Homo sapiens: one gene and its partners. The protein of the gene in region 4 interacts with the protein of the main gene of each other region in a pairwise test. Each region holds a gene or a part of one and is shown on either strand. Other genes may lie near its edges.

Evidence for each region.
Region 1: the proteins of FLNB (region 4) and NPHP1 interact in a two-hybrid assay, tested with the Homo sapiens proteins (one study listed by BioGRID).
Region 2: the proteins of FLNB (region 4) and TRIM55 interact in a two-hybrid assay, tested with the Homo sapiens proteins (one study listed by BioGRID).
Region 3: the proteins of FLNB (region 4) and FBLIM1 interact in a two-hybrid assay, tested with the Homo sapiens proteins (one study listed by BioGRID).

The regions. Positions count from the first base shown.
Region 1 is NC_000002.12:110,159,621-110,167,063, reverse strand, and holds part of NPHP1 (nephrocystin-1), read left to right. Parts: intron 1-1,908; coding exon 1,909-2,012; intron 2,013-2,333; coding exon 2,334-2,376; coding exon of another isoform or gene 2,377-2,544; intron 2,545-3,928; coding exon 3,929-4,016; intron 4,017-5,366; coding exon 5,367-5,461; intron 5,462-6,808; coding exon 6,809-6,937; intron 6,938-7,443. UniProt on the Homo sapiens protein: Together with BCAR1 it may play a role in the control of epithelial cell polarity. Involved in the organization of apical junctions in kidney cells together with NPHP4 and RPGRIP1L/NPHP8. Does not seem to be strictly required for ciliogenesis.
Region 2 is NC_000008.11:66,150,686-66,158,128, reverse strand, and holds part of TRIM55 (tripartite motif-containing protein 55), read right to left. Parts: intron 5,753-7,443; coding exon 5,502-5,752; intron 4,083-5,501; coding exon 3,795-4,082; intron 2,507-3,794; coding exon of another isoform or gene 2,419-2,506; intron 1-2,418. UniProt on the Homo sapiens protein: E3 ubiquitin ligase that plays an important role in regulating cardiac development and contractility, muscle growth, metabolism, and fiber-type differentiation.
Region 3 is NC_000001.11:15,768,532-15,775,974, reverse strand, and holds part of FBLIM1 (filamin-binding LIM protein 1), read right to left. Parts: coding exon 7,345-7,443; intron 5,567-7,344; coding exon 5,397-5,566; intron 1,358-5,396; coding exon 1,179-1,357; coding exon of another isoform or gene 944-1,178; exon of another isoform or gene 754-943; intron 1-753. UniProt on the Homo sapiens protein: Serves as an anchoring site for cell-ECM adhesion proteins and filamin-containing actin filaments. Is implicated in cell shape modulation (spreading) and motility.
Region 4 is NC_000003.12:58,144,042-58,151,484, reverse strand, and holds part of FLNB (filamin-B), read right to left. Parts: intron 5,565-7,443; coding exon 5,436-5,564; intron 4,666-5,435; coding exon 4,492-4,665; intron 3,280-4,491; coding exon 3,121-3,279; intron 2,837-3,120; coding exon 2,633-2,836; intron 1,636-2,632; coding exon 1,483-1,635; intron 1,381-1,482; coding exon 1,258-1,380; intron 1-1,257. UniProt on the Homo sapiens protein: Connects cell membrane constituents to the actin cytoskeleton. May promote orthogonal branching of actin filaments and links actin filaments to membrane glycoproteins. Anchors various transmembrane proteins to the actin cytoskeleton.

The DNA of each region.
Region 1 (7,443 bases), on a different chromosome or scaffold from region 4:
ATTTTATATTATCCAGTATATCAAAAATACTATTTTGACATATCAATATTTAAAAATATTGAGTTGTTTTGCTTTTTTAACATTAAGTTCAAAATCCAATGTGTGTTTTACATTTACAGCACTTCTCAGTTTGGATTAATTTCAAGAGCTCACTAGCTACATGTGGCCAAAGGGCTATTGTATTACATAGGGCAGGTCTAGATCATCTTTTTCAATGGCAGCAAGTCTTCTAATCTCATTTAGATGGTCATTGAAGTTGTTTCCAACCTATAATCACTATCGATTATGTTGCAAAGAACATGGGATTAGCATCCACTGTCAGTTGCAAAAAGATCCCCCCAAAAAGTAGCTTAAATAAGGTAGAAGCCTATTTCTCTCAAGCATAAAAGTGTGGAGAAAAGCAATCAATAATTGGTTAAGATCCTATCCAGTATTTTATCCTGTTTCTGATGTGAGGCTGCTCTGCCTAGAGTTATCTCTTTAGTTTTAAGTCAGCTGCTGGATCTTTTAAGGATTCCAAGGAGCAAAAGGGGAAAGAATTCAAAAGGCATAAGCTGCTGCCTTTTTAAGAAGGTTTCTTGGAAGTTACACAAAAAAACTTTCAACTGTTGCTCATTGACCAGCATTTAGTTCTCTGGCAACAGTTAGCTGCAAGGAAGTCTTGGGAAATGTAGTCTTTTAACTGGATCATTGTTAAATCAGGGATTTTGTTTGAAAAAGGAGGTGGGGAATAGGTGGTAGCCAGCCAGCAACTTGTGTTGTCATCAAGCCTGCGTGCATCTTTGCACACTTGCCCGATTATCCCCTTAGATAAATTCCTAGATGTTCATCACTGGTTCAAAGGGTTTATAGCTTTATATTTTGATTTATTTTTCCAATTTGCCTTTTAGAAAAGTTATGCCAATTTGTACTCCCACCTCTAACAATCAGTGAGTGCTGTTTCCTCACACAATTGCCAGTGATGGCTGTTAGCAATCTTTAAAATTTTTGCCAATATGACCAGCAAAAAAAGTGTCATTAGTGGTTTAATGTGCATTTACTGTACTCCTAATGAGGTTAAGCATCATCTCATATGCTTTATGACCATTTGTATATCTTCTTTGCGAATGGCACTTTCGGTTTTCTTTATTGATACATAATATTTTATGTATTTGTGTGAGTGCTTTTTACTTGTATGGATTGTGTAATAATCAAGTCAGGGTATTTGAGATTTCCATCACCTTGAGTGCTTATCATTTTTATGTGTTGGTACCTTTTCAGTTCTTTTGGATATTTTTTTCTAAGGGATTTAAAAAACTCTTTCATTGATTTCTAAGAGCTTTTATAATATTTTAATAATCAGGATATTAATCCTTAGATATTTGTGTGAGCTATTTTCTTTTTTTCCCCTCAGGATATGCTTAAGTTATGTGTTAGATATTTTCTTTGTTGACTTTAGGTCATGTTTATTTATTATGTAGCTAAATCTGTCAGTGTTTCCACTTATGATTTTTGATTTTGTATCATGATTGGAAAGGGCTTCCCCATCTCTAGATTATTTTCTTCTAATGCTTTTATGTTTCTTTTATTTTTATCTTTACGTCTTTTCTTTTTTATTTAAGTAAATTCCATCTGGAATTTATTTTGATTAAACTTGCTGTCTATCTCAGTTCTTATTTTTTCAAATAGCAAAGTTATTAACCATGTGTTGAAAATTTATTTCCCACTGAGTTTTATATGCTCATCATATATACTAAATTCCCATCTATGCTCAAGATTTTCTGAAAGTACTGATGCTTTTGTTTTTTTGTTTTTAAACAGAAAAGCTTGTTTTTGTTTTTACTGGAGGGTTAGGTGGCAGTACTGGTATTTTTATTGGTTGTTTTTTGCATTAGTTAAAAAGCACTTCACATTTCAATGGTTTTTTAGCCTTATAGTGAAGAAGAAGAAGGCCAAGAGTCAAGTGAAGAGGGCAGTGAAGAAGATGTAGAGGCGGTGGATGAAACAGCAGATGGAGCAGAAGTTAAGCAAAGGTACAAAAGTGGGAAAGGATATCAAAGTAGGTTTAGGAAACATTTTATTTGTTTATTTTTATTATTATAACTAATTCAATACTTTCTTGAAATGGAGACAACTTGTACCTGGAGAGCTTTTCATACTATTGTCTGCTTAAAGATCATTACTGTTTTAGTTTTGTAATTATTTTTAATACATTTAGCTCTACCTCGTTTTCATCTGGAAACTGTTAGATTTTCAAAACTTACTGATGATTATCAACTGTGATTAAAGAAGTTCCCTAATTGAGTGAATAGGCATAACCTGACCTGACTCACTTTGCTATTTTGTCTCCCCAGAACTGATCCCCACTGGAGTGCTGTTCAGAAAGCGATTTCAGAGGCGGGCATCTTCTGTCTTGTTAATCATGTCTCGTTTTGCTACCTAATAGTTCTGATGCGAAATAGGATGGAGACTGTGGAAGACACCAATGGATCTGAAACAGGGTTCAGGGCATGGAATGTACAGAGCAGAGGACGTATATTTCTGGTTTCTAAGCCTGTGCTCCAAGTAACATTTCTCATTAGTTTTTTTTTTTTTTTGTACAAAAAGAATAGATAATTCATGGTGTCACTTGAGGACTTGGAAACATTCTCATTGATCCTGCTTTCCTATCATTTGAGTGGAAACAGATGTTAAATTTTATTTACTATTCGAAAAATCCTGAAAGCCTTTAATAAAAAGTAAGAAATTGGCCAGGCATGGTGATTCACACTGGTAATCCCAACATTTTGGGAAGCTGAAGCAGGAGGATCACTTGAGGCCAGGAATTCAAGACCAGCTTGAGCAACATAGTGAGACCCTATCCTACAAAAAATAAGAAAAATTAGCCAGGTGTGGTGGCTCATGCCTGTAGTCCCAGCTACTCGGGAGGCTGAGGTGGGAGGATTGCATGAGTTTGGGAAGTCAAGGCTGTAGTGAGCTGTGATTGTGCCACTGCACTCCAGAGCATGAGTGACAGGGCAAGACCCTGTCTTAAAAAAAAAAAAGTAATTAATTACATTTTTTTAAAGGAGAAATGATCCATAATTCTGTCATTAAAAAAAAATTACAGGCCGGGCACAGTGGCTCATGGGCACAGTGGCTCACACCTGTAATCCCAGCACTTTGGGAGGCCAAGGCGGGTGGATCACCTGGGGTCAAGAGTTCAAGACCAGCCTAGTCAACACAGCGAAACCTCACCTCGACTAAAAATAGAAAAATTAGCTGGGCGTGGTAGCGCATGTCTGTAGTCCCAGCTCCTGGGGAGGCTGAGGCAGGAGAATTGCTTGAACCTGGGAGGCGGAGGTTGCAGTGAGCCGAGAATACTCCACTGTACTCCAGCCTGGGCGACAGAGTGAGACTCCGTCTCAAAAAACAAAAAAATAATTACATAGCCAAATGAAAATTCTCTTCCTCAAACTCATAAGTAATCACCATTAACAATTTAGTACGTGTCCTTCCTGACCTTTTTCGTTATTTATTACTTATAAGTACATCCTTGTATGTGTGAGGGTGTGTGTCTATGAGTAGTGTGTATGTGTATACAAAAAAAATCCATTAATTCTTCAGTGCATGTGATTTGCCAATAGACATTAACTTACCTGTGAAATGGAAGCGCAGGGTGGAGCAGGACAGGAGCAGGGACATTTTGATAAGGGTATACTTGAAGCAGCTGCTCCGGAACACACAGCTCTGCACGCTGGGCACTGTATGGGGCTTAGGTCCTTAGGAGAGGCCAGGGTGCTGTGATGGCATCCTCTCAGGAATTTGGGGCCAAATCGTATTATTCTTCCACTAAAGTCTGTATGTTTATATTTTTCTTTTTTGGGTTATAGTTACTCTAGTGATAAAGTATTATAGAGATGCAGAAACATGACTGAAAACAAATCCATTTTGATGTTACTGTCTTCAGCAGATAAACACTGTTGATGTGTTAACTACGATGGGAGCTATTCCTGCAGGGTTCAGGCCTTCCACGCTCTCACAGCTTCTGGAGGAAGGTAATGCGTGCCTATCAGCCACTGCACTCTTTCAGCAAAGCAGTCAAGATCCACGTCTAATTTTTCTGTCACAGGCAAAACACATTGTTGAAGAAGATGTTGAATCTCACATCTCTTTGGTGCTCATCTTTTCCTCATCCTTCCTATGACAGTGAGGAAAGATCCCTGATCCTATCAGAGGCCAGCCTGTTTACCAGTGCTCCGGGTTCCAGCCCCTTTCTTTTTTTCAAAAATGTGACTCCTTTAATTTTCAGCCCTTTCCTGTGTCTTTAGCTGGCCCACCTTCCCCACACTGGTTCATTCCCTCATCTGTGCTATCAGCACACCTAATTCTCCCCACCTTAAAGGATCAGCCCCTTGAATCCTATCCCATTCTAGCCAAAACCTCCTTTTCTCTGATCTTCTTCCAAGCAAGACTTTTCCAAAGAATTATCTCCATTTGGAATTTTCATTTTCCTTACTCATTCTTGGCTTTCCCTGTATTTGGCAACTTTTGTCTATAAGCTCATTTTAAAGAGGATTCATGCTGGGGGACAAGGGGTGTCCTGTATACCCTGAGTTGTTGAGTTGTCATGGAAGGGCTGCTTTGAGGATGCCTTTGCTGGGAAGGTTCTTCCCAGTACTCCCTAAATTCCCATCTTTTCATCCTTCAGGTCTCGCGGTAAATTCTGCCTTCCCAGAGATGCCTTCCTTGAGTAATGTGGGTTTCCCTTACTCCCATTCATGTGAACACCCTTTATAGCTCTATGTCCCCTAATAATTATTTTATTTATTTGCTTGTCTACTTATTTTCTAAGAAAATTTTCCTCCCATTCAACTGTAAACTATGGAGGGCAGGGGACATATCTCTGATTTATCTTTGTATTTCTAGAACCTGGTGTAGCATCTGGCAAGAGTAGAAGCTCAAAAATTATTTCTCGAATGGATAAATGATGTTATTAAAAGTATTATTCATGACTAAAGCATGGAGGAAGAGCATAAAATGCTTTTGTGTTAAGAAGTAAAACTAACGACTTTGTTTTTTCTGAAGTCTCCAAAAAGTGCTCATAGATTTCTGCATTTTACAAAAATATTTGAATGAATCCTTGTCATCATGGGGCATATTATTGGCCTAAAAGTCTTTCTTAAAGGTGCTTTAAGATGATCTTTTATGTGTTTGTATCTGTAAGTTTTGTACTGCTGTTTTTATCCATAAATCTATATTGGCGCTTCTATTTTGGAAAGCAAGTTCTTAGTAAGCAGCGTGGCATTTTGGAAGTGCCTGTACTCTAGTTCATAGCATAACATTATGGATTTTTGATTTGGAGTTTCTTTCTTTGTAAGAAAATGAAGAAAAAATGATTTTTTCAGGGAATCAATTTCGAGCAAATTACTTCTTACAACCAGAGCTCATGCCTTCACAACTGGCCTTCAGAGATCTGATGTGGGATGCTACAGAAGGCACTGTAAGTATAGTTACTATCAGTAAAAGTGTAACTCTTCCAGATTTTGTCATAGTTGCAATTAGACAAACAACATGTTAATTGACTAATGAATTATAAAAAACAAAAAAATTGTTTATGATAATTTTGAAAATAGCGATATTTTTATAACTAAGGCAGAATTTGGACTTGCTACCTTGACTTTATCTTGTTTCTCTTCTCCATTGCACTCTTCTCTCATTGTTAGAAAGGAAATAATACTAGGTTTCTATCTTAATCATTCTTTGCCTCAATTTCTTCATCTGTAAAGATGGAGTAATAGTAATGCTTCCAACATAAAGTTATTTTGATAATTATGTGTGTGAAGGGTTTTGAATAATGCCTGGCATATGAAAAGAACTCAATAGATGTTAGCCATTATTATCATTTATAGTAGTAGTAGCAGTAGTAGTAGTATTTTTGAGACAGGGTCTCCCTCTGTCACCCAGGCTAGAGGGCAGTGGTGTGATCATGGCTCACTGTAACCTCAAATTCCTGGGCTCAAGCGACCCTCCCACTTCAGCTTCCTGAGTAGCTGGGGCCACAGGCCTACACCACCATGCCCAGGTAATTTTTGTATTTTTTGTAAAGATGGGGTTTTGCCACGTTGCCAGGCTGGTCTCAAACTCCTGAGCTCAAGCAATCTGCCCTCCTATCCCTCCCAAAGTGCTAGGATTACAAGTGTGAGCCACCAGTCCCAGTCTAATATAAGTTATTTAAATGAAAAGGCTTATGACCGTAAAGCAGAATGTAAAGTTTAATGAATTGAAGCTGTTCTTAAAAAATAAAAAATCAGAATGCCAATTTATTTACTCACAATCTGAATTATACCTATGAAGCAGATCTGAATAAATATATCAGATAGTGCATTCTCTCTGTTAAAACACCTATTAAGAAACTAAGGAACTATGCAGATAATTGCTTGGAATAAAAAATAGTGGGGATAATCTTAATGCCAGGTGGCATTGGTTTTATGCTGCGTTAGCCTTCTGCACTTACCCACATTCTGTAGGAGTGAACCGGGACTGGAATACAGTGATTCTATAGTCATAGATCATATACATTTTGCCTGCCAATATTTATTGTTCCTTTCATCACAGCTTTTAAGTATTTAAGAAAAATGCAATATTTCAAATGTAACTCTATGAAAAATTTACCTAAAATGACTGATTTAATTTTCAATGAACAGAGTATTGAAACTTTTATTGTATATGTGTAAATTTTTTCTTTTTTAAAAATTCTGTATACATTTTCATAAGCCGAATTCACAAAAGACAGATTTGTGTTAGAAATCATAAAAATAAACTTTTTTATAACTAATTTTTCTTTCAGATTAGGTCGAGACCAAGTCGTATTTCATTGATTCTGACATTATGGAGCTGTAAAATGATTCCTCTTCCAGGAATGAGCATACAGGTTCTCAGCAGACATGTACGCCTCTGTCTATTTGATGGTAATAAGGTAAGGTTACTGAGAAGTAAATCAATTCATACTAGGATTATGGAGAAACATTCCCTTAGATTCTTTTCCATTCAACTCCTCCCCAATTCCCAAGAGAGTATTTTTTACCTAGTACCAAAGAAAAATTTGAATGACTCTTTGAAAAATTCATTTTTTAAATGAGATACAGGTTAAACAGTACTTAGATGGAAATTTATAGTTTTAATTGTGTATATTAAAAAAAAGATAAAAGATTTAAAGTCAGTGATCTAAGCTAGCAAATCAAGAGGCTAGAAAAAGAAGAGTGAGTTAAACCTGAAGAAAGTAGAAAGTGGGAAATAATACAGATAAGAGTAGAAATTAATGAAATAGAAAACAGATGGACCAAAGAGAAAATTTTAAAAAAGACAAAAGTTGATTCTTTGAAAACATTAATAAAACTGAAAGATGCATAGTGAGACTATTAAGACTTTTTTAAAAAGTAAAAGAAAACAAACTATTAACATCTGACATGGAAATAGAGACAT
Region 2 (7,443 bases), on a different chromosome or scaffold from region 4:
CTTACCCTGAGGCAGCTGCTGTGTCCAGCTCAAGTATCAGCCAGAGCAGCTGCTGAGTTAATCCACCAAATAGAGATCCTGTAGAAGCCCAAGGAAACTGGGGCCTTTGATGAGTTCAAATTCACCACAAGGCTGAATCCAAACCTTGCTTTTTCTTAGAGAATGCCCATGGGGGAGCTACAGCACTCTTCTGATCTAACAAAAAGTAGTGGTCCTGTCCATCACTCGTAGAGGAAGCTGATGTTTGGTTTTTGCCATGACCGGTTTTTTTTGCCTGTGTACTTGGGTGAAGAGAGAAGGTAAGGTATGTGATAAAGCAGAAATTGTTCAGCACCAGAAACCACAGGCAGTAAAATCGAGGGCATGTTTCACTGTGTACATGGATGTAAGGAAAGCACCAGGAAATAGAGCATTTGCTTCTAAAAGGTTTGCAGTTCAGCTGTTGTGGGCTGAATGTAGTTTACAGATCAGCAAGTGAGCCTGAGATGCTTCTGAGTTTTAAAGGCAGCATTACTCTGACACGGGACCACCTAGTAAAGAGAGATAAGACCACCACTGAATCAAAGAGAACTCTTACCACATCCTAAATACTCAAGGTAAGCCTAGTGATGAAATGTGAAATTCTAGCACTCTAACCTTGAACTGGACAAATATGAATCTGGTAAACTGGGTTCTGAAGTGGTGAAGGTGAATCAGACCTGCAAAATATTCTCAGAGGCCGGGAATTTGCTACTATAGTGAGGTCTCTATCAACCTGCCCATATCCCATTTCTGGGATCAAAGAGTAGTACTCCATCATGAACAGGTGTCCTTCTCTATGTGAAAGGCCCTTCCTCAAACACCAAGAACTATACAGTAAGGTTTTTTGCAATACTGGATGTCAACGCCCTCCCCACACCTGCTCCACCTGCCCCACCCTCCTCTCCCTAGGCAGGCACGTGGATGTCAGCATACATGACATGGGCTCAGTGGATCACAGCCTTGAAGCATGACACTCCCTCTGCAGCCTCAGAGAAGCAATACAAGACATATATGTAGTGACAAAGCCCTAAACCCGAATTCTCAGAATGTAAACAGAACCCTTCAGACAATTATTCAGATCCACAATTAGGTCCTGGTTCCAATAAAGCATGGAGTTTTCTCTCTCACCATTCACCCCTCTGAGTCCATGGCCAATACATCCTCCCACTCCTTTTTACCACAGATAATGTCTGAAGGAGTTGGGCAGCTGAGCAGACTGTAAGGACACTCAGGACACTCTAGGGTGCACAGGTTTCCAGCTGACTATTGGACATTGTGGGCAGGTCCTGCTCACACACAGTTCCAGACACGGCAGAGACCAATGGAGACGCCACCGCCATTGCTGAGCAGATGGCTAATGAGGCAGAAAGTCTATGAAGGGAGCTTCCAGAAGAGTCAGTGTCAACCCAGGGAAAAGTCAGTGAGCCAGAAATAGCCGAGGCTTTTCAGCACCATTGACCCTGAACTGCCTTTGAGCTACAGGAACAAGGAGTTGGGTCTCAGGCCCAGCAGGGTCATTTACACAAAAGTACATGGAAGTTGGAATCTTTAAATATTATTAATTAAACTGAGAACTTTCAAAAGGGTATTAAAGGATTATGATGTCAGTCCTCAAGCAAACCTCATAACAGCAATCAAGCAAAGGCTTGGCTATGAGAACGGTGACTCGGAAATAATATAAATGGACTGCTTGATGACTTTATGGCTTAGTTCTTGGTTCTAATTCCTGATAGCTGGTAAGTGCACATTGATCCTCTGGCTGTTAATTCATTCAGGTCTCACGTGGCTGCAATCCCCCAGATATTTCTTCAGTCAGGGCATCTTTCTCTCAGGGACCTCCTCTCCCAGGAGAAACTCTGTAGAGTCTGAGGGTTCAAAGAGAACCCACCTGCTCACCTGCATAGGAACTGCCTAGAACATCATCCCACGAGGAGTCACTTGGCCACCTCCTGGGCATCTCTGGTGTAAGCAGATGAAATGCTTGTACTTAATCTATGGAAACCTGCATTTTCCTGCAGGAGTCCTTTGCCGCTCCTTTCTCTACGAGCAGTAAGTCCTCACCGCATTATGGACACTTGAAACTGGCCTCCCCTAATGACCATTCTGGAGGGTTTGCTCCTCCTGGATTACTGAATAATTGCCCATGGAGTTACTGTTCTCAGTCAAGGTTCCCCTCCATGCAGGAATAGATAATGGAGCAATTCTCCTCAGAAAGAGGTCTTGAGGCGATTGCATTGTGTGAGCTTGAGGCCTCCAGTATAATCTGAGAACAATGTTCTTTTGGGAGGACTGAGCCTCAAGATTTGGGGAGAAATTAATCTCTGGGCCTATAGAAGAGGAACATTATGGAAGAAACTATGTGAGATGTTAGTCAAGGGAAAAGAAAATATTTCCTACCCATTAAAGTAAAAATCAAGCACTGAATCTGACTCCAGATGTAGTGAAGAATAAGAAAAGCCAAAAGCGCTAGGCAGATTACTAACTCCTGTGAGAAAACAAGAAGAAAGCTTCACTGATATTATCACAAATAATTATTTTCAACATTATTTCAATGGACTTTTCATTTTGGCTTGAGCCCTACTACGTGCTCTTCATGGGGTAGTGCACTACTGTTTTCAGAAAACAGCCCCTCCGCACACAGCTTCTACTACCATGTATAAGAATTGCCACACATTTTCTAGAAATAATCAGTCTACTGCATCTTTTACCTAAAAACCACCTCATAAGATTTCTTCCCACCAAACATTTATTTTTGTCATTTTATCTGTGAAAATAAACATCCAACCCCAAAGCATGTTACTTTTAATTTTCCAAAATCATTTCCTTTTACTACCTCATGGAATTGAAGTCTCTTGGGCAGATACAATCAAAATAATAAGTCATTGTCTGATTTTTGAGAACATGTTGTTTGTGGTTCATAATCAATCACCTGATGACCCAGGAGCATGGAACTGGAGAGTGCTTTCTGGCAGCTTCTTGCCTGGGCAACACTCACACCCTACACATCATTTAAGAATGCTCATGAGTATGGAGTCACCATGAACATTCTTCCTTGTGAAGAAATTGTAAAAGATTTCTTCTGTGGACTCTTCAAGACATGCAAACATCTAACCAAGTGTTAGGGGGAAGACATGGACTTCAAACTCATCATATAAAGAAAGAGTCTCTTGAAAAAAATCTCTGTGGAGGAGCACCTGTGCTTTTCCACTCCCAGGAGTACATGCTTAGGAAGCACAGGTTTAATCAAGCCAAGACTGTCTCTGTCTAGCTGTAGCCAGCACACTCCAAGAATCCATGAATCAGAGGTTATTCTCCAGAACAGACTTAAAACTCAAGTGTGCTCCTTGGGGGTTGCTGGGAATGACACAAAAGCAGGGGATTAGTCTTTAGAAGCCCAAGGAGGACACAGGGAAGGCTGAGCAAGGGCAAGTGGCCGTTGGTAAGGAGGACTGGGGACACAGCCAGTCACTGCAGATGAAGCAGCGCTCAGTAGCATGCCTAAGGGCCAGGCTCACTTGCACCCCTCCCCTGGGAAGCCAGGTGTGAGGTCACCATGCACCAGGAGAGTGAACTCAAATTTGTTTTGTTTTATGTTTTCTTTTATATAGAGCTCAAAACAAGCCAACATTGGGGGATGAATTGTTTCTGTACTTTTCCCCTGGCTGAGGTTTCTCTCTGCCCCTTTGAAAACCCTTTTTCTTCTTGCTGTGGCCTGTTCCAGTGGGACCCTAGGGGGCGCGGGAAAGCATAGACACAAGTGCATCATCACTAACCTGAGAAGTAGCTGCAGGTGCACTAGTTTCCTTACCACTCACAGCTGCCCTCTCACTCGCTGCGGCTGCTGCCACTTCTGCCTTCCGTACATTCGAATCCTCAGAACCTGGAGGCCCTATTTGCCCCAGACCTTCGCTCCCTGGGGTGCAAGGTGGGTTGGTGGTGGCTTTCCGGGTTTGGCCTTTATACCAACTAGGGTAAAACAAGGGATCCGCAGTTTCTGCTGCTGCAGGGACTGGAGTTTCAGACTCTGTGGTCTGCTCAGAGCCAGTGGGTACAACCTCCCCCTTAATCAGGACAGATAAATTCAAAAGTAAAGAAAAAAAAAAAGAAGAAGAAGAAGAAAAAGCAGTTGATTTTAGTTCCCTTTGGGTTTGAACACTGTGCGCTCCCTGCATGCAGTGCCTTGGTGGCCGTTTTAGTTCATCCCACCCTCCAGAAGCGCTAAGGGCAGAATGGTGACTACAGTGCCCCTCTGTCCAGCATCTGGATGGGTGCCCTCTTCTTTTCTGAGCTTGTCTTTCACTCACTGGGAGCCCAGGCAGGCAGAGAGCAGAAACCTCAGTGAATGTTGGTTATAAAATATCAGATATGGGAAAAGGGTCAAACTATTGACTAGAATAATTTGTTGGCTTTATACGTGAGTCCCAAAAACCTCATTATAAAAAACAAAAATTAATCTTATTGATCAAATCCAACCCTCACTTAGTTACTATACCTCTTTCAATTTTAATACAACTGAAATGCTCAGAATTTAAAAATTCTAGACTATAAATGGCATTTTAGCCTGGTTTCCTGTGGAGACAGAGCATAGAAATACAGTTCCATCTCTGAGATCCCCCTCTGGAGTTTTGTTTCAATCCACTTCAAAAGCAGTTGCAGAAGCAGGACTCCTCTCTGATGAGTCTGCACTGCCTGCAAACTCAAAAGGTTGGGATCCTGTCTGCTGAAGTATCATGGAGTCTGCACAAAGGCTTGAAAACTGGACGGTGACGTATTAGAAACATGAGGTCAACCAATTAGGTGCAGCATCTGGGGTGAGCTTATTTCTTAAGATATGTTTTAAACAATTCTGTCAACACACAATCTCATCAAATGACAAATCCATAGAAAACCAGGCTTCATTGTTTGCTCACTGAAGGAAAAATACATAAGTTGTATTTCAGGGTAAGCAACAGGAACATAAACTAGTGTAGTTTCTCTATTTACCCCCTCAATTATCTACAGAAAATTCAAAGTTCTGAAAGTATAATCACTTTTATTTCTTACTCTGTATGCTATTTATTTCTCATCCTATACCCTACATATACATTCACTAAGTAACAAAGAGCAGACCCAGTCCCCATGATATCAGCTCTCTATGAATTAACATGACACACAGACATGGACACACACACACACACACACACACACACACACACACACACACAATTTCCAGACAAAGATTGCCTTTGATTTGAGGGCATTACTGGTGGGAAAGTTGTATTAAATTTTGTTAACTAACAATAACAACAAAGAACCTGTTGAATCACCTAGAGGACTTTTCTCCCCGACATGAGGACTGTCCTGAAATCTTTCGTCTACCATATACGAATGTCTGGCATATAGTTATCTTTTTCTTAAGGCAGAATAGGGTAAATTGTTTAGGCTATTCCATAAGGAGACACGCCCATGTGCCCTGTAGAAAGAGACTCAGGAGGGGTTACCTGTGTCACAGGGGCATCCGCAGCAGGTGGCAGGGCTGGAGGTGGCTCTGGAGAGGAAACTGGAAGTGCCCCAGGGGCAGCCTGCAGCTCCACCTGAGAGAGCTCTGAAGCTTTTTCTGGGTTTTCATCTTCTCCTGGAAACTCTGTTTGAACATTTTCTACCTCTTCCACTTCTACTGCTTCTCCTCCCACTTCTCCTTCTCCTTCTTTTTCTCCTTCTCCGCCTTCTTCTTCTTCTTCATCTTCATCTTCTGGTAAGGTAAGGTATCTTGTAAATTGTTATAACTATCTCTGCAGCCATGGACACAGTTAATGGCCAGTGCTTATAGCCCTAGTTAAGGTCAAGGCTGGGGAGTTTTTCTCTGACAGACACTTGACAATGGTCCAAGTGTGCCGTGCCAGGGCTTTGTGCTTCTAGTGGAATGTGGACTGGACAAATGTGAAGGAACCATCCCTATCCTCCTTGTTCTCCTCCCCAGTACAAAGTCTTCACCTCTGCTGTGCATAATGCCCTTCACCTTCCAGAGCCCGTCCACATTTTTATTACAGTCTGCCACATCTGCAAGCTCCTGGAGGCCTGGGATTGTCACTTATTTATCTCTGTCAGATTAAATGGAAGTGCAACTGTCTTCCCTGTCTCAGAAAACATACAAAGCCCTTTTGTCATTTTAGCTTTCTACCTCTGTTGTTCAGTGAATACTGACTTTTGCCATAATTAATGTCACGACTCTTTTATTTATTTATTTATTTATTTATTTATTTATTTATTTATTTATTATTTTTTGAGACAGAGTCTCACTCTGTCACCCAGGCTGGAGTGCAGTGGTGCAATCTCAGCTCACTGGAACCTCCGCTTCCTGGGTTCAAGTGATTCTCCTGCCTCTGCCTCTGGAGTAGCTGGGATTACAGGCGTACGCCACCACGCCCGGCTAATTTTTTTGTATTTTTAGTAGAGATGGGGTTTCACCATGTTGGCCAGGCTGGTCTCAAACTCCTGGCCTTAAGTGATCCACCCGCCTTGGCCTCCCAAAGTGCTGGAATGCCGTGACTCTTTTCCTGACCCACTGATCTTAATATTCCCTCAGGCGACATTAAGGACAGGCAATATTAAGCGATTTTTTTAAAAAGATACATCCTAAAGATTTGCCTTTAAAATTTTGTCTGTGGATGTTGGTGCAGCCTCATAGCATTACTAGTGGTCTAGTGGTCTAGCTGAGGGGTGTGATCATCTAGGTGGGCTAGCATGAGTCAAAGTGATCAAAGTTTTGGTCAGCTCCAAGATTGTTTTTCACTTTTCAATTATTTAATCAGGATAAAATTTCAGAAATGGGACTTCTGGGCCAAAAGGTAGGAATGTGGTTATAGCTCAGGGAGTATAACTAGTCACACAGACCCAGGTTTATGTTCAGGTTGTGACTTATTCTATGAGTTGTTACTATTCTTGTCCTCTAAATTTTGATTAAGTTGATGTGCTGCAATATCTAACCCACATGCCTCCTATGTATTGTTTTTATCTCATCTTTAACCTTGCTCCTGCTGACACTTTACATTATTTTGGCTAACACTGTGCATAGGATTGAAGTTGAGATATCATCATTATCAATTATGAAGCATTTGCTTATCAAGAGTCAAATACCCAACCTGACATTAAAATAGGCACCAGGCCGGGCATGGTGGCTCACTTCTGTAATCCCAGCACTTTGGGAGGCCAAGGCAGGTGGATCACCTGAGGTCAGAAGTTCGAGACCAGCCTGGCCAACATGGCGAAACCCTACCTCTCTAATAATTCAAAAATTAGCCGGGTGTGGTGGCAGGTGCCTGTAATCCCAGCTACTCAGGAGGCTGAGGCGGGAGAATCGCTTGAACCCAGGAGGTGGAGGTTCCAGTGAGCCAAGATCGTGCCATTGCACTCTAGGCTGGGCAACAGAGTGAGAGTCCATCA
Region 3 (7,443 bases), on a different chromosome or scaffold from region 4:
ACCTTTCTTGCTGGGAGCTGGCCATAAAGAAATTCTCTGGCCTGCCTTATCTGACTGAGTCATAAGCCCTTCATTCATTCCAGGGAGAATCCTGCCCTCCATCCTGGAGGAAGAAAAGCTGCATAGAGACCAAGATGACTCTGGACAGGCCCTGCTAGGTTTCCCTCTCAGTTTATTAGCTTCCACCATACCCTTTTCCTCCAGCCGAATTTCTACTGGGTGGTCAATCATGCCTATCCAATGACGTCTCCATAGAAGGCCCAAGAGGACAGGGTTCGGGAGCTTTCAGGTGGCTGAACATGTGGGGGTTCCTGGAGGGTGGCACACTTGGGGAGGGAGGGCATGTAAGCTCCTTGCCCCTTCCCCTAGACCTCATCCTAGGCATCTCTTCACGTGTCTGTCTGTATCGCTGTAATATCCTTTTCTTTTTTTTTTTTTTTGAGACAGAGTCTCACTCTGTCACCCAGGCTGGAGTGCAGTGGTGCGATCTCGGCTCACTGCAAACTCCACCTCCTGGGTTCAAGTGATTCTTCTGCCTCAGCCTCCCAAGTAGCTGGGACTACAGGCACACACCACCATGCTCAGCTAATTTTTGTATTTTTTGTAGAGATGGGGTTTTACCGTATTGGCCAGGCTGGCCTCAAACTCCTGACCTCATGATCTGCCCACCTTGGCCTCCAAAAGTGCTGGGATTACAGGTGTGAGCCACTGCCCCCAGCACTGTAATATTCTTTTTTTTTTTTTTTTTTTTTTGAGACGGAGTCTCACACTCTGTTGCCCAGGCTGGAGTGCAGTGGCGTGATCTCGGCTCACTGCAAGCTCTGCCTCCCAGGTTCACGCCATTCTCCTGCCTCAGCCTCCCGAGTAGCTGGGACTACAGGCGCCCGCCACCATGCCTGGCTAATTTTTTTTGTATTTTTAGTAGAGACGGGGTTTCACCATGTTAGCCAGGATGATCTCGATCTCCTGACCTCGTGATCCACCCGCCTCGGCCTCCCAAAGTGCTGGGATTACAGGCGTGAGCCACCGCGCCCAGCCCAGCCCTGTAATATTCTTTATAATAAACCAGTAGACAGGAAACTCTGGCCCAGCACCCAGGACTCAAGCTCAGCTCCTTCACCCTGCTTGGGTCTCGCCCTGTCCCTGCACCCCACCCAGTGCACAAACCCTTCTCGTACCTGTAGAAGTCGTCCAGGCAGTACACCTCGTTCTGGCTGCCCAGGGCAAAGCTCTCATCCCCAATGCACCGGGCGCAGGTCACACACGTGAAGCAGGAGGGGTGGAAGGCCTGGCCCAGGGCCCTGATGATGTGGTCCCGGACCACCTCGCCACACTTGCCGCACCTCTCCAGTGTGTCCTAGGACAGAGGCCACTGCCAGAACCATCCACGACACACCCACCCCAACCCACGAGGGTCGTCTTCTTCTGAGAGGCTGCCCTCAGGGGCCCAGGAACTGGGAAGTACAGGAGAGGCCTGCAGACAACCTGTAACTATCGCCCAAAACCTCCACCATTGCTTATAACAAATTGAGCTTAGCCTTGCATCCTTGGCTTACAGCAAGGAATACTGCCCTGATGCCCTGATGCTATGGCTGCATTTCTTGTTACTGGGATATGTTTATGGCCAGGGTCCACAGAGCTATAGGAGAAACCTCGCTTAAACCTCAGGGTCAGGAAAAGGAATTCTCAGGAGAATTGGGTGCTTTATCATACAGACAAGAAGACTTGAAATTCTTTCCCTTTTCCATTTGGCCACTTGGAAGCTCAGAGCCAAATTCCACATTTCACGTTTAGAAACCATTATAGGGCTTTTTTGTTGTTATTTGGTTCTTGTTTTGTTTTGGGACAGAGTCTCGCTCTGTTACTGAGGCTGGAGTGCAGTGCCCCAATCTCAGCTCACTGCATCCTCTACTTGAGGTTCAAGTGATTCTCATGCCTCAGCCTCCTGAGTAGCTGGGACTACAGGTGTGCGCCACCACGCCCGGCTAATTTTTTGTAGACACGGTGTTTCACCATGTTGGCCAGGCTGGTTTCGAACTCCTGACCTCAAGTGATCAACCCACGTTAGCTTCCCAAAGTGCTGGGATTACAGGCGTGAGCCACCGTGTCTGGCTTCCTCACACATTTTGGGTAGTAACATTCCCTTTGATCTCGTCTCACTTTCTATTTTGATTTTCCTTCTGTTTGGATGTCTTTATTTTACATATCGTAGTATTATTGCAGTCTTTAAAAAATTGTTTTATTGTGGGAAGAACACTTAACATGAGATCTACCTTTTTTTTTTTTTTTTTTTCTGAGACGGAGTTTTGCTCTTGTCAATCAGGCTGAAGTGCAGTGGCGCAATCTTGGCTCACCACAACCTCGTTTCCCGGGTTAAAGCAATTCTCCTGCCTCAGCCTCCCGAGTAGGTGGGATTACAGGCATGCGCCACCACATCCGGCTAATTTTTTGTATTTTTAGTAGAGACGGGGTTTCTCCATGTTGGTCAGGCTGGTCTCGAACTCCTGACCTCAGGTGATCTGCCTGCCTCAGCCTCCCAAAGTGCTGGGATTACAGGCGTGAGCCACCGTGCCCAGGCTTTTTCTTTTTTTTGAGATGGAGTCTTGCTCTGTTGCGCAGGCTGGAGTGCAGTGGTGTGATCTTGACTCACTGCAGCCTCTGCCTCCCGGGTTCAAGTGATTCTCCTGCCTCAGCCTCCCAAGTAGCTGGGATTACAGGCACGCACCATGCCTGGCTAGTTTTTGTATTTTTAGTAGAGACAGGGTTTTTCCATTTTGGTCAGGCTGGTCTCGAACTCCTAACCTCAGGTGATCCACCTGCCTCGGCCTGGCATGAGCCACGGCACCTGGCCAGTTAACATAATTTTATATGATGCTTTAAGAAGAAATGCGCCAGGCAAGGTGGCTTATGCCTGTAATCCCTGGACTTTGGGAGGCTGAGGCAGGCAGATCTCCTGAGGTCAGGAGTTCCAGACAAGCCTGGCCAACATGGTGAAACCCCCGTCTCTACTAAAAATACAAAAAATAGCCGGGCGTGGTGGTGGGCAACTGTAATCCCAGCTACTTGAGAGGCTGAGGCGGGAGAATCACGTGGAATTTTTCAGTGCACGCATGTTATTGTGGTCTATAGGTATATATGCATTCTCTTTAAAAACATATTTTAATAAAAAAATAGCTATATTAAAATAGAGATGGAGTCTTGCTATGTTGCCCAGGCTCGTCTTGAACTTCTGACCTCAAGTAATCCTCCCACCTCAGCCTCCCAAAGTGCTGAGATTGCAGGTGTGAGCCACCGCGCCTGGCTGGTATACATGCATTCATAGAAGCTGCCTCAAATTCCTTCTGGAATGAGGAGCAATGACAAAGAGATTCCCGAGGCAGGGCAGTGGGCTTCCCTCTAGCCTTTCCACCTTTTCTCCTGGACATGCTGTCTCTCCTTCCTGGCTGTGCTCCTGTGCATTTTACCTTGACCTCACCTGGACACGTGTGGGGGCATCTCCCACTCCCCCCTCCCTCTCATGGGCATGGCCCTTCTCTCCCCAGCACACTGCTCAAGTCTTCCTCCTGGCTGCTTCCTGCTTCCAGCTGGACACCCCTCCTCCCCTGGTGTCTCACCCCTGAGGAACACTCCCCCATGATGTTGATGGGGTCACAGGGACACGGCAGGGAGGGCCTGGCTCCTCTCTCTTCCCACAGTGCCTCACTGGTGGTGAGCCTGGGATTGGATTGTTTGGATTCTTCTGGAGAGTCTCAGCTCCAAATACTCTAACCCTTCAAATCAGCCGTTTTCAAACTTCTATATGCATGAGAATCACTTGAGACACTGATTCAAAATGCTGATTTCCAGGTGTTCCTCATTCATAAGCACAAAGAGTGGCCTACACATCCCCAGGGGATGCGGCTGTGGGTGGTCACCACACTCAACATGCCACCACAAACCATCCAAGAGTTAGAAATTCCAGTGTGCTGGCATCCCAGCTGGCTCTCCCAGATTGCACTTGGTACCCGGAAGCAACACAGATTCCCGTGAGATCAAACATTGGAACCCTGTGGCTCTACTCTAGGGGAGATAGTGGCAAGACTGATGGCAGGCTCCAGAGCCAGATGGGTGTGGAGTAGAATCCCAGCTCCTTGGCCATCTCGTGTGACCTCGTGTGGTAGCTAAGAGATGCCCCCAAAGATATCCAGTCCTTATCTCTGGACCCCGAATGTTACCTTGCCCGGCAAAAGAGGCTTTCAGATGGGATGAGCTAAGGATCTTAAGATGGGGGAGATTATCCTGATTATCCAGGTGGGTCCTAAATGCCATCGCGTGTCCCTGTAACTTGACACAGAGGTGACAATAGGGCCGCTGAAGTGGGATGCTACACTGCTGGCTTTGAAGCAGAGGAAGGAGTCAAGGAGAATGCAGCTTCATAAACTGCAAAAGGGGCCAGGTGCGGTGGCTCACACCTGTAATCCCAGCACTTTGTGAGGCCGAGGGGGTGGATTCCTTGAGGTCAGGAGTTTGAGACCAGCCTGGCCAAAGTGGTGAAATCCCATCTCTACTAAAAATACAAAAATTAGTTGGGCATGGTGGCAGGCACCTGTAGTCCCAGCTACTCAGGAGGCTGAGACATGGGAATTGCTTCAACCCGGGAAGCAGAGGTTGCAGTGATCTGAGATTGTACGACTGCACTCCAGCTGGGGTGACAGAATGAGCCTCCATCTTAAAAAAAAAAAAAAACAAAAAAAAACAGGCTGGGCGCAGTGGCTCATGCCTGTAATCCCAGCACTTTGGGAGGTCGAGGTGGGTGGCTCACGAGGTCAGGAGTTCAAGACCAGCCTGGCCAAGATGGTGAAACCCCATCTCTACCAAAAATACAAAAATTAGCCGGGTGTGGTGTCAGGTGCCTGTAATCCCAGCTACTCGGGAGGCTGAGGCAGGAGAATCCCTTGAACCTGGGTGGCCGAGGTTGCAGTGAGCTGACATCGTGCCACTGCACTCCAGCCTGGGCGATAGAGTGAGACTCCGTCCCCCACCGCAAAAAAAAAGAAGAAGAAGAAGAAAAAAAGAAATTGCAAAAGGCAGAGATGTGGGTTCTCCCTCAAGCCTCCAGACAGCACACCACCTTGGTTTTGGCCCAGTGAAGCTGATTTTGGACTTTTGATCTCCCGAACTGGGACAGAATAAACGTGTACTGCTGGAAGCCACGAAGGTTGTGGTGATCTCTTACAGGCAGCCCTAGGAAACCAATCGCCTTCACTGGGCTCCTTCTTTCTGAGCCTCAGTTTCCTCATCTGTGAAAGGGGTCAATAGTGCCTACTTCCCAGGACTGTGTGGGGAATGAAATGGTGCAACATATTCTAAGTGCTCAGCTCACTGCCTGGCACCCAGAGGTCTGCTGCAGGGGTTACCTGGTAGCAGGGTTCGCAGAGGGGTCGCCCATCCTTCTGGTAGAAGCTCTGCCCAGCCAGCTGGCGGCGGCAGGTGCGGCACGTGAAGCACTGGGCATGGTACTGCCTCTTCATGGCCTCCACAGCCAGCTCTCGGGGGGACACGGTCTTGTGGCAGAAGGCACAGATGTCTGGGGTAGGGGAGACACAGGCCATCACCAGCCCAGCCTGTGAGGACTGTACCCAGGCACCACCCAGAACATGCTCAGGATACCCGAGGCTCTGTCTTAAACCCTGCAAATTCCTCAAATGACAAATACAGAGGGTCATGAGGAGCATTAAAAAGGAATCTGAGTCAGGCATGGTGGCTCACACCTGTAATGCCAGCACTTTGGGAGGCCAAGGTGAGCGGATCACTTGAGGACAGGAGTTCAAGACCAGCCTGGCCAACATGGTGAAACCCCATCTCTACTAAAAATACAAAAATTAGCCGGGCATAGTGGCATGCCCCCGTAGTCCCAGCTACTCATGGGGCTGAGGCAGGAGAATCACTTGAACCTAGGAGGCAGAGGTTATAGTGAGCCGAGACTGTGCCATTGCACTCCAGCATGGGTAACAGAGTGAGGCTCTGTTTCAGGAAAAACAATAAAAATTAAAAAAAATAAAGAGCCCGGCGCGGTGGCTCACACCTGTAATCTCAGCACTTTGGGATGCCGAGGTGGGCGGATCACAAGGTCAAGAGATCGAGACCATCTGGCCAACATGGTGAAACCCTGTCTCTACTAAAAATACAAAAATTAGCTGGGCGTGGTAGCGGGCGCCTGTAGTCCCAGTACTCAGGAGACTGAGGCAGGAGACTCGCTTAAACCCAGGAGGTGGAGGTTGCAATGAGCCAAGATCGCGCCACTGCACTCTAGCCTGGTGACAGAGCAAGACTCTGTCTAAAAAAATAAAAATAAAAATAAATAACATAAATAAATAAGGAATTCTGGACAGCAGTTTCAGGACAAAGGGATTGTTGGCTGCCTTGACCTCCCAAAGTGCTGGGATTACAGGCATGAACCACTACACCCAGCCAGGAGCCACTTTGTTTATTTATTTTATTTTATTTTTTTATTTTTTTGAGACGGAAGCTCACTCTGTCACCCAGGCTGGAGAGCAGTGGCGCAATCTCAGCTCACTGCAACCTCCGCCTCCTGGGTTCAAGAGATTCTCCTGCCTCAGCCTCCCGAGTAGCTGGGATTACAGGCACACACCACCACACCCAGCTAACTTTCGTATTTTTAGTAGAGACAGCATTTCACCATGTTGGCCAGGCGGATCTCGAACTCCTGACCTCAGGTGATCCACCTGCCTCAGCCTCCCAAAATGCTGGGATTATAGGCGTGAGCCACCACGCTCAGCCAGGAGCCACTTTATATTCTGATGTGTGACCAGCTCTGAGATGTACGAAGGAAAGAAAGTGAACAGCAGAAGAGCCTAGTTTGCTACTTATGGAAAAATGGGGGGAGGGAGCAGGTGGACACATATTTGTATTTGCTCGTATGTGCATAGTGTCTTTGGCAGGATACATGAGAGCTCAATGACAGAGGACACCCATCTGGAAGGAAACCGGGTGGTAGGGGGATGGGGCAGGTTGCAGGCTTCTCACTGTGTCCCCACTCATGCTGTTTATTTTGCACTGTGTGAGGGCATTAGGTGTTCAGAAAATAAAATAGTGAGAAAAAATTCAAGACATTTTTGCTATCATAGCAAACTGCAGACTAACATTTTAAATAGAATTTAGGTATAAAGGGAAAAAGGCTAAAGCAATACAAATTAAATGGATGCCGAACTACAAAGCCCATCATTGTTAACATGAGCTGGGGTGGGGATGGGAAGAGGGGTCCTCACTCTCTTGGTTTCTACCTGGAAGCCCATGCTGGCCCCATGAGATCACCCCAGTATCCTCTCAGCCCTGTGCACCTACCTGTGGATGCCCCTTTCTCAACAGGTTCTGCCGGGGGAGGTGGCAGCTCTTCCTCCATGGGCCTGAGGGGACCGGGCTGGACTGAAGGTCCCTCCGCTG
Region 4 (7,443 bases):
AGGTGACACTTCCTCCCCCCACCTTGAGGCACACGAACTGTTTATGACTACAAACGATCAGTACAGCTCTTTTTTTTTTTTTTTTTTTTTTTTGAGAAGGAGTCTCACTTTGTTGCCCAGGCTGGAGTGCAGCGGTGCAATTTCAGCTCACTGCAACCTCCACCTCCCAGGTTTACGCAATTCTTGTGCCTCAGCCTCCTGAGTAGGTGGGATTACAGGTGCCCGCCACCACGCCCTGCTTATTTTTGTATTTTTAGAAGAGATAGGGTTTTGCCATGTTAGCCAGGCTGGTCTCGAACTCCTGACCTCAGGTGATCTGCCTGCCTCGGCCCCCCAAAGTGCTGGGATTATAGGAGTAAGCCACCGCGCCCGGCCCAATAAAGCTCTTTTTAAGTGATCATGTCTGAACTCTACAGTAATGAGGCTTTACCACATTCCCATGTGACCCGACGTTGATGTGACTACACAAGAAGAACCTGTTAACTAAAGCCAAGAAGGCGGAGTCGACAGCTCCGTGACTCGTTAGGAAGGATGGGAGATGCAGTGTAGAAAGACAACCCCCTCTCCAGAGCTCGCAACACAAGCTCCATCTGAAGACGATTTAGATTTCCCTTCTCTGTAGAATTTGTGCAATTCCACAGGACATGCCAACTTCTGGGCAGAGGAGCCTCAAAATTTTCACTCACAGTGGCTTCCCTCTGGAAGGATTCTTTATAGAAAGAACTTGGAACACATTTCAGACAGACTGTGTGACCTGTTGACTGGCTAATCGGGGCCCAAGAAGAACAATTCACCACCAAAGGGCTAGATGTGGCCCAGCGAGTTCTGCAGCACAGCCCTCGTTCTAATTTCAGGAATGAAAGAGAAATACTAGAAGGATGCCGCTGGGCTGCCACCTCTTAAATACTTCCAGACCCTGGCATCGGCAGGGCCAGTTCTTTCACTGACATGATTCTATTTGACAGATAGTTAATCTAAAAATCTAAAAGCATATCTACGTTTCCCCCATGTGACACAATAAAGCTATTTTTATTTGGAAGAGGAAAAAGGTAGCAAGGTAAACATTTGTTTTTCTTGGATGAGACTCTGTGAAAATAAACATAGAAGAACATAATGAAATGAAGTGAAATGAAAAGGTCAGCACAGCCGACTTGGATACTGTGTTCTGGGCCATGCCTAAACTTGGTTCCCAAAGGCACCCACTGCCCTGAAGGCTGGAGCCAAGGCTTCCCCACCCTACTAGTCCCCGACGCCCACCTGGGATTTTCAGGTTCAGGTCACAAATGCTCCCGACAGTGGCCACGGACGGGGCCCGACTGGTGCGGGTGATGCTCTCTTTGACTCTTCCCTCCCCACTGATCTTCACGGTAAATGGGCTCCCTGCAAGACCCAAGAAGGCTCCTGTGAGCAGGCCAGAGGCCAAGGCACAGCATTTACAGAAAACCCAAGCATCCCACCTGGAGGGGAATGGAATGCACATACCAGGCACGTGCTCGTCAGCGAATTTGGTGGAGACGATATAAACCCCAGGCACGGTAGGGAAGTAGGAGACTTTGCAGGTGCCATCTTCCAGGTCCTCCGTCTGGATGTCCACTTTGCTGGGGCCTTCCACCGCCAAGGATATGCCACCATAACCTGCAACACAGCAGCCCCAGGCTGTTCTGACAGCAGCTCCTCAGGAAGAGGGAGCCTGATGAATGGAGAAAGGACATCCGACCCTTACGCCTCAATCTATTTCTACATAGCAGAAAGAAAGCAATGGCGGCCTCGTTTGCAAAGCCCAGAGGGGGATGAGTAGGTTAAGCGTCCTGAGAAGCCCCATAGTGAAATAACCTGCTGAACCTGGTTTTGACCACAGAAGCCTTTCCTTAAGGATATTTACTAATATCCCATAGATGATGTGTCCCGTACAAACTGCTGGGGAGGACCTTCTGCCCTCACGCCTCCAAGTACTGCACGTACCACCTTGGGGGTTTATCCACAGCCAGATCTGAGATTTTGAATTTTTAAATAGCCCCTGGCTACCTCAGCTAGGTCAGCATATCCGAAGGTTTAACAGGGAGTATCTCCCAACCAGGACCAGAAATTCTCCAGCCCTCTCCCCGGGTTAGAATTTGTCTAGAATTCACCAGCGTGGCCATCCTTCAAGAAAGCAGATGACTGGAGGCACTGGGGTGTGGCAAGCTTGGAAGAGACACAATCTAACTCAAACCATCTCAAAGAGAAAACAGAAAGAGATGCTTCATTTCCACAAAAGCTCTGCTCAGATGACCATGGTCTTGGCCAATCAACCCAACATTCTTTGCTTGGAGAGACGCTGGGAAGCTGAGAACAAGGGTGGGAGAGCAGATAAGAAAACAGGGGTTTGCGAGGTGTTGTGGCTCTGGGTTCAGATCCTAGTGCAGAGGGGGCTCTAAACCTTGCAAGCCTCAGTTTCATCATCTAAAAAACAAAGACAATCCCATTTTTGCCAATGGTCATGAGGCATAAAAGACAATGCAGGCAGAAGGACCTATAGCTTGAAGGATGCTCAGAAAGGAAAAGGAGTTGGTAGGATGAAAAGATGACGCTGCCTCAGCAAAATAAGTCGGTTCCCACAAGCTCTGGGCCTCTCCCCTGGGACCACACAGACCTGCATCCCTTGTGTCCACGATGAAGTCAGACATCTCGAAAGTCCGGCCTTCTGACAGGCCGCGGCCATAGACTTTGGCTCGGCGGGCGTCACCAATCTCCGACTGGACCACCATGATAGACACGGGGCTGTTGGCCACATGGTTGCCATTTTTCTTGATGCTGACCAGATGTTCGCCCACTTCCCGGGGGATGAAGGAGATGCCTGGACCAGAACACAGATTGGGGCTTGTAAGGGGATGGCGGAGAGGAAGCAGGAGAGAGACACACTCTCAGAAATAGAAATATGTCCTCTTTCCTGACACCCAACAATCCAGAGTGTCGATATCACAATGCACAAATACGCTTGGGCATTTATCGTGCGTGTGACCCAGCAGGTTTATCACATCACACTCCATTGTGCTACCCATTCCCAAGAAAGGACTGCAAGAGTCCCCATCTCCCACCCAAGATGTCCTGGCTCCAGCCAGGAAGGGTAGCCTAGCTCACCAATGTGGTTGTTGGGCAGCCTCTTCAGGAGACAGGGCTCGTCTCGGCCAGATGGGGCCTTAATGCTGGCCGTCAGGCTGCTGAGGTCAGTCTCACTGATGTCGAGCAGGAAGTCAGCGGCTGAGCCCAACTTCACCTGGGAGCACCGCCTGCTGTCATCTGGGAAACATCCCCCAAAAAGGACTCCCGTTACATGTGGTTACCCTGGCTTCACAGAGCTGCCATGCCATATGCTGTTCACGGATGAACACGCAAGAACTAATTACACAAAGTTAAGTGAAAAAAAAATGAGCCTTGAACACTGAGTAGACCCAACCAATGAAGAATGATGGGATTCATGCCTGCTTGCAGCAAAGACAAGAAGCTGGCAGGACCTAGAGACTTGAGTCCTCATGGACCACATTTTAAAGGAATCTTTGGGCCAGGTGCCTAATCCCAACACTTTGAGAGGCTGAGGCAGACGAATCACTTGAGGTCAGGAGTTCAAGACCAGCCTGTCCAACATGGTGAAACTTCATCTCTATTAAAAATACAAAAATAAGCTGGGTGTGGTGGTGGGTGCTGTAATCCCAGCTATTCAGGAGGCTGAGGCAGGAGAATCGCTTGAACCCAGGAGGTAGAGGTCACAGTGAGCCGAGATCATGCCACTAAAACTCCAGCCTGGGTGATAGAGTGAGACTCTGTCTCAAAAATAAAATAAAATATAGGAATTTTTGTTAGTTGAAGGCACCTCATACCTGCCTGGCATGGCTGTGGGCATTTCTAGGTAAACAATGACCACATTCCACACAGTACTACTGGCTGCTTCACAGACAGGTCTAAATACGGTGGGGAAACAGGATCTGCCTTGTGCATCTTCCTTATAACCCACTGAAAGCATAACCTGAACACAGCAAGGTGAGGAGCATGGGCTTTGGAATTTGATAACCTGGATCTGTTTACCTATATGTGAACTTGGCTACACCACTACCTTGCCAAGCCTCAGTTTTCCCATCTGTAAAAGGGATAGCAGAAAATTTACCTAGTAGTGACGCTGAAGGGCATGTCTAAGCTCATGCACTTCATGCACTATTGCAGTAAGTATGATTCGAACACTCCATCTGAGAGCTTTCTCTTTGCACCCTAGAGTCACACTGGCACAATAAAAGTGTGCTCCAAATACTAGCTCTCGCATTTTCCTGGATTATCAGCAAGAGAAGGATTTAGCTAATCCAAAATTGCATTCCATCCCCTGCTCCTCCTCAACAAGTCTCTGTGAAACCTAAACTCAAAGAGACGTCTAGCCTGCTGCCAGGGGTCTGATAAGGAGGGTGGCAGTCAGAGGCAGCCATACTTCCCACGAGGAAGACCCCAGAAGCCAGACAACCCTACCTGTGATCTTGGCTGTGAAGGGGCTGCCAGGGATGTGCTTGTCATTGTACTTGACCAGAATGCTGTAGTCGCCTGGCAGAGTCGGCAGGTAGGTCACTGTGCATGTCCCATCTTTATTGTCAATGCAGCTGATTTCTGCTTTTGAGGGGCCCTCAATAGCCAAGTCCAGACCACCTACAAGTGGGAACAGGGATGCAGGGGTGTTAGGGAGAGAGTTGCCTTGTTTTAAGAGTTTCCTTTTAACAACTCATCCAGGGCAGCCCTGATGCTGGGGACAATGGATTGACGCACTCCACGTGAGCTGTGGGCAAAGGGACATCTGTCAGAATGAAGCAGTCCACGCAGTAAAAACACCCACTGAGAAGAAACCCCAAACATCTGAGTTCTTCACTGCAAGTAACCCTGGAGCTCTCTCTACTCTCAGGATGCATGGGATGAGAAAAGGAAGGAGCCGTGTACATCAATTACACATAGGAGACGGTGGGTGGTGGAGGGCAGAGGTGGATTGTCCCTGCCCATCAGGCACTGGCTGCCATCACGGAAATCCCATTAGAACCACAGATTTGGGATTATCCATGAATACCACGGGAATGGGCACACAGCTTTATCAAAAAGAGCCACTCAGTAAGTCATGTGGTCTTGTGGATACATGTGCAACAAGAACAAAAACATCACCAACCAAAACACACTTAAATTCCAGACAAGTCACATAAAGTATTTCATAGCATGAATCTGATTTCAGTTAGAACACAAAGGACTTCAAAAATGTCTGTCTGGGTAGAAGACGAAGCGGCTCTAAAGAAGAAACAGATTTACACGAGAGAAAAGACAAGACAAATACTACCATTCGATTGTCTCACTTTTAAAAGCCACCCTGGAACCGTGTCCACTTCACCCTCCAAATGGACAGCTGGAGGCGTATAAACACGTAAACCACACAGTACCTTCTCCTGCATCCTCTGTGACGATGGTGAAGGTGGCAGTTTTGTTGGCCACTCCATACACGAGGCCTGGACCGTATGCAGAAACACTTCCACTGTTGGGGTAGTTCACGTAGAACTGGAGTGGGCTCTCTGGGTTTACGAAGGACACAAACAAAATTGGTGCTCATTAAGGGGTGAACGAAGACCCTGGACAACTGGCATCTTGACGTCCACCTCTCTACAGGTCTGGCGCCTCCTAAGCAGAGGCATGAAGAGACAGAAGGAGATGCACATGCACCTCCCATCCCCCGCCATCCTAGGACATCAGAGAGGGTCTACGCAGTATTATTCCTTCAATCACAACATAAGAAAAACAATCCTGGAAGCTGCTCCAGATGAGGAAGGGGGCTAAGGTAAGGTACCAGCCCAACCTGACAAATAAGGAAGAAACTTTTGCACTGGGTGGTGAAAGGACCCATGGCCAGAGGGAAGGTAAGTGGAAAGGGCTTTTGGAAGGCCATTTGCCCATGCCATTCAACCTGTAAGGAATCAACCCCACAGTGGTCTTCTCTGCCCACCCCGACTCCTAGCCCTATGTAAGCACTTTCATTTCTGCAGTGTTCGGGTGCACATCAGGAAAAGACCTAAGTGTTCACAACAGGGGACCGGTTAAATAAATGCTGATCTACTCATGGGCCATTAAAAAGAGTGAGGAAGACCCATGTTTACTGACTTGAGAAATTATCCATAATATGATGCATTAAAAAGAAAAAAAGCAAGTTGCTATAAACTATGAATACCATTATGCTATTCCTTTAAAAACAAAATAGAATAAAATTATATGTATGTTTGTAGATACAGAGAGAAACATCTGAAAAGATACACAACTCACACCAGCAGTGGAAGTGGATGGCAGATGTGAGAAAGACATTTTTTCCTCTCTCTCCATCTGCCGCTTTAGAATATTTAAATAGAAGCAGATAATACATTTTTGCTTTAAACCAATATTACATACAGACAACTAAAGTAAATGCCAATCTCAGAGAAACATTTGCAACTCCTACCACAAAGGGCTAATCTCTCCAATGTTTACATTGCTCTTAGAAACTATATGACAAAGGCCAATAACCAAATAGAAAAACAGGCCGTGGATCCAAATGTTCAGTTCACAGAAAAAGAAATACAAATAGACATAGGGAAAGTTGTGTGGTCTCATTCACAAGAGAAATACAAATAAAGCAACGCTGAGATTCTGTTTCTTTCCAACCATCAGACTGGCAAAGCTCCAAAAATTTGATACCATATTCTACTGGCAAATTTTGTGGAAAAGAAGGTGCTCTTCTCCATGGCCAGAGGGCGTGTGAACTGCAACAGCCCCTCTGAAGGGCAATTTGGCAAGATCTGTCAAAATCATAGATGCCTGCACTGGGGCCCTAGCATTGCCTCCTCTGGTAACTAAATCTCACAGATACATCTTTGTGAGTGTGAGGTGACTAGGGGAAAAGTCGATTTGCGCAGCAACACTGGGGACAGCGAGGGCAGGAAGAACCAAAATGCCCTCCAATAGGGAAATGGTCAAATATGTAATGGTTCGTCCACATGAGGGAAGGCTGGGAAGACACTCTCTTATATATCTGTATTTCCGTTTGCATGGAGAGTCTTAAAAATACTCTGAAATTGGCCAGGCGTGGCGGCTCATGCCTGTTATCCCAACACTTTAGGAGACAAAGGCGGGAGGTCTGCTTGAGGACAGGAGTTTGAGACCAATCTGTGCAACACAGTGAGACCCTATCTCCACAAAAAAATAAAAAATAAAACCCTGAAACTCTGAAATCGAACATAAAAAAATTTATGATAGTCTAGTTCAAGGAGAGGGGTAGGAAGGAAAACTTTCTTCGTATCATTTTTATTTTTGAACCATGAGAATGTGTTACCTATTCAAAATACTAAATTAAAAAACAAATACAACTACAAAAAGAAAGAATGAACTGGTGACACTGTGCTGGTTGGTGACCCATGAAACCTGGGC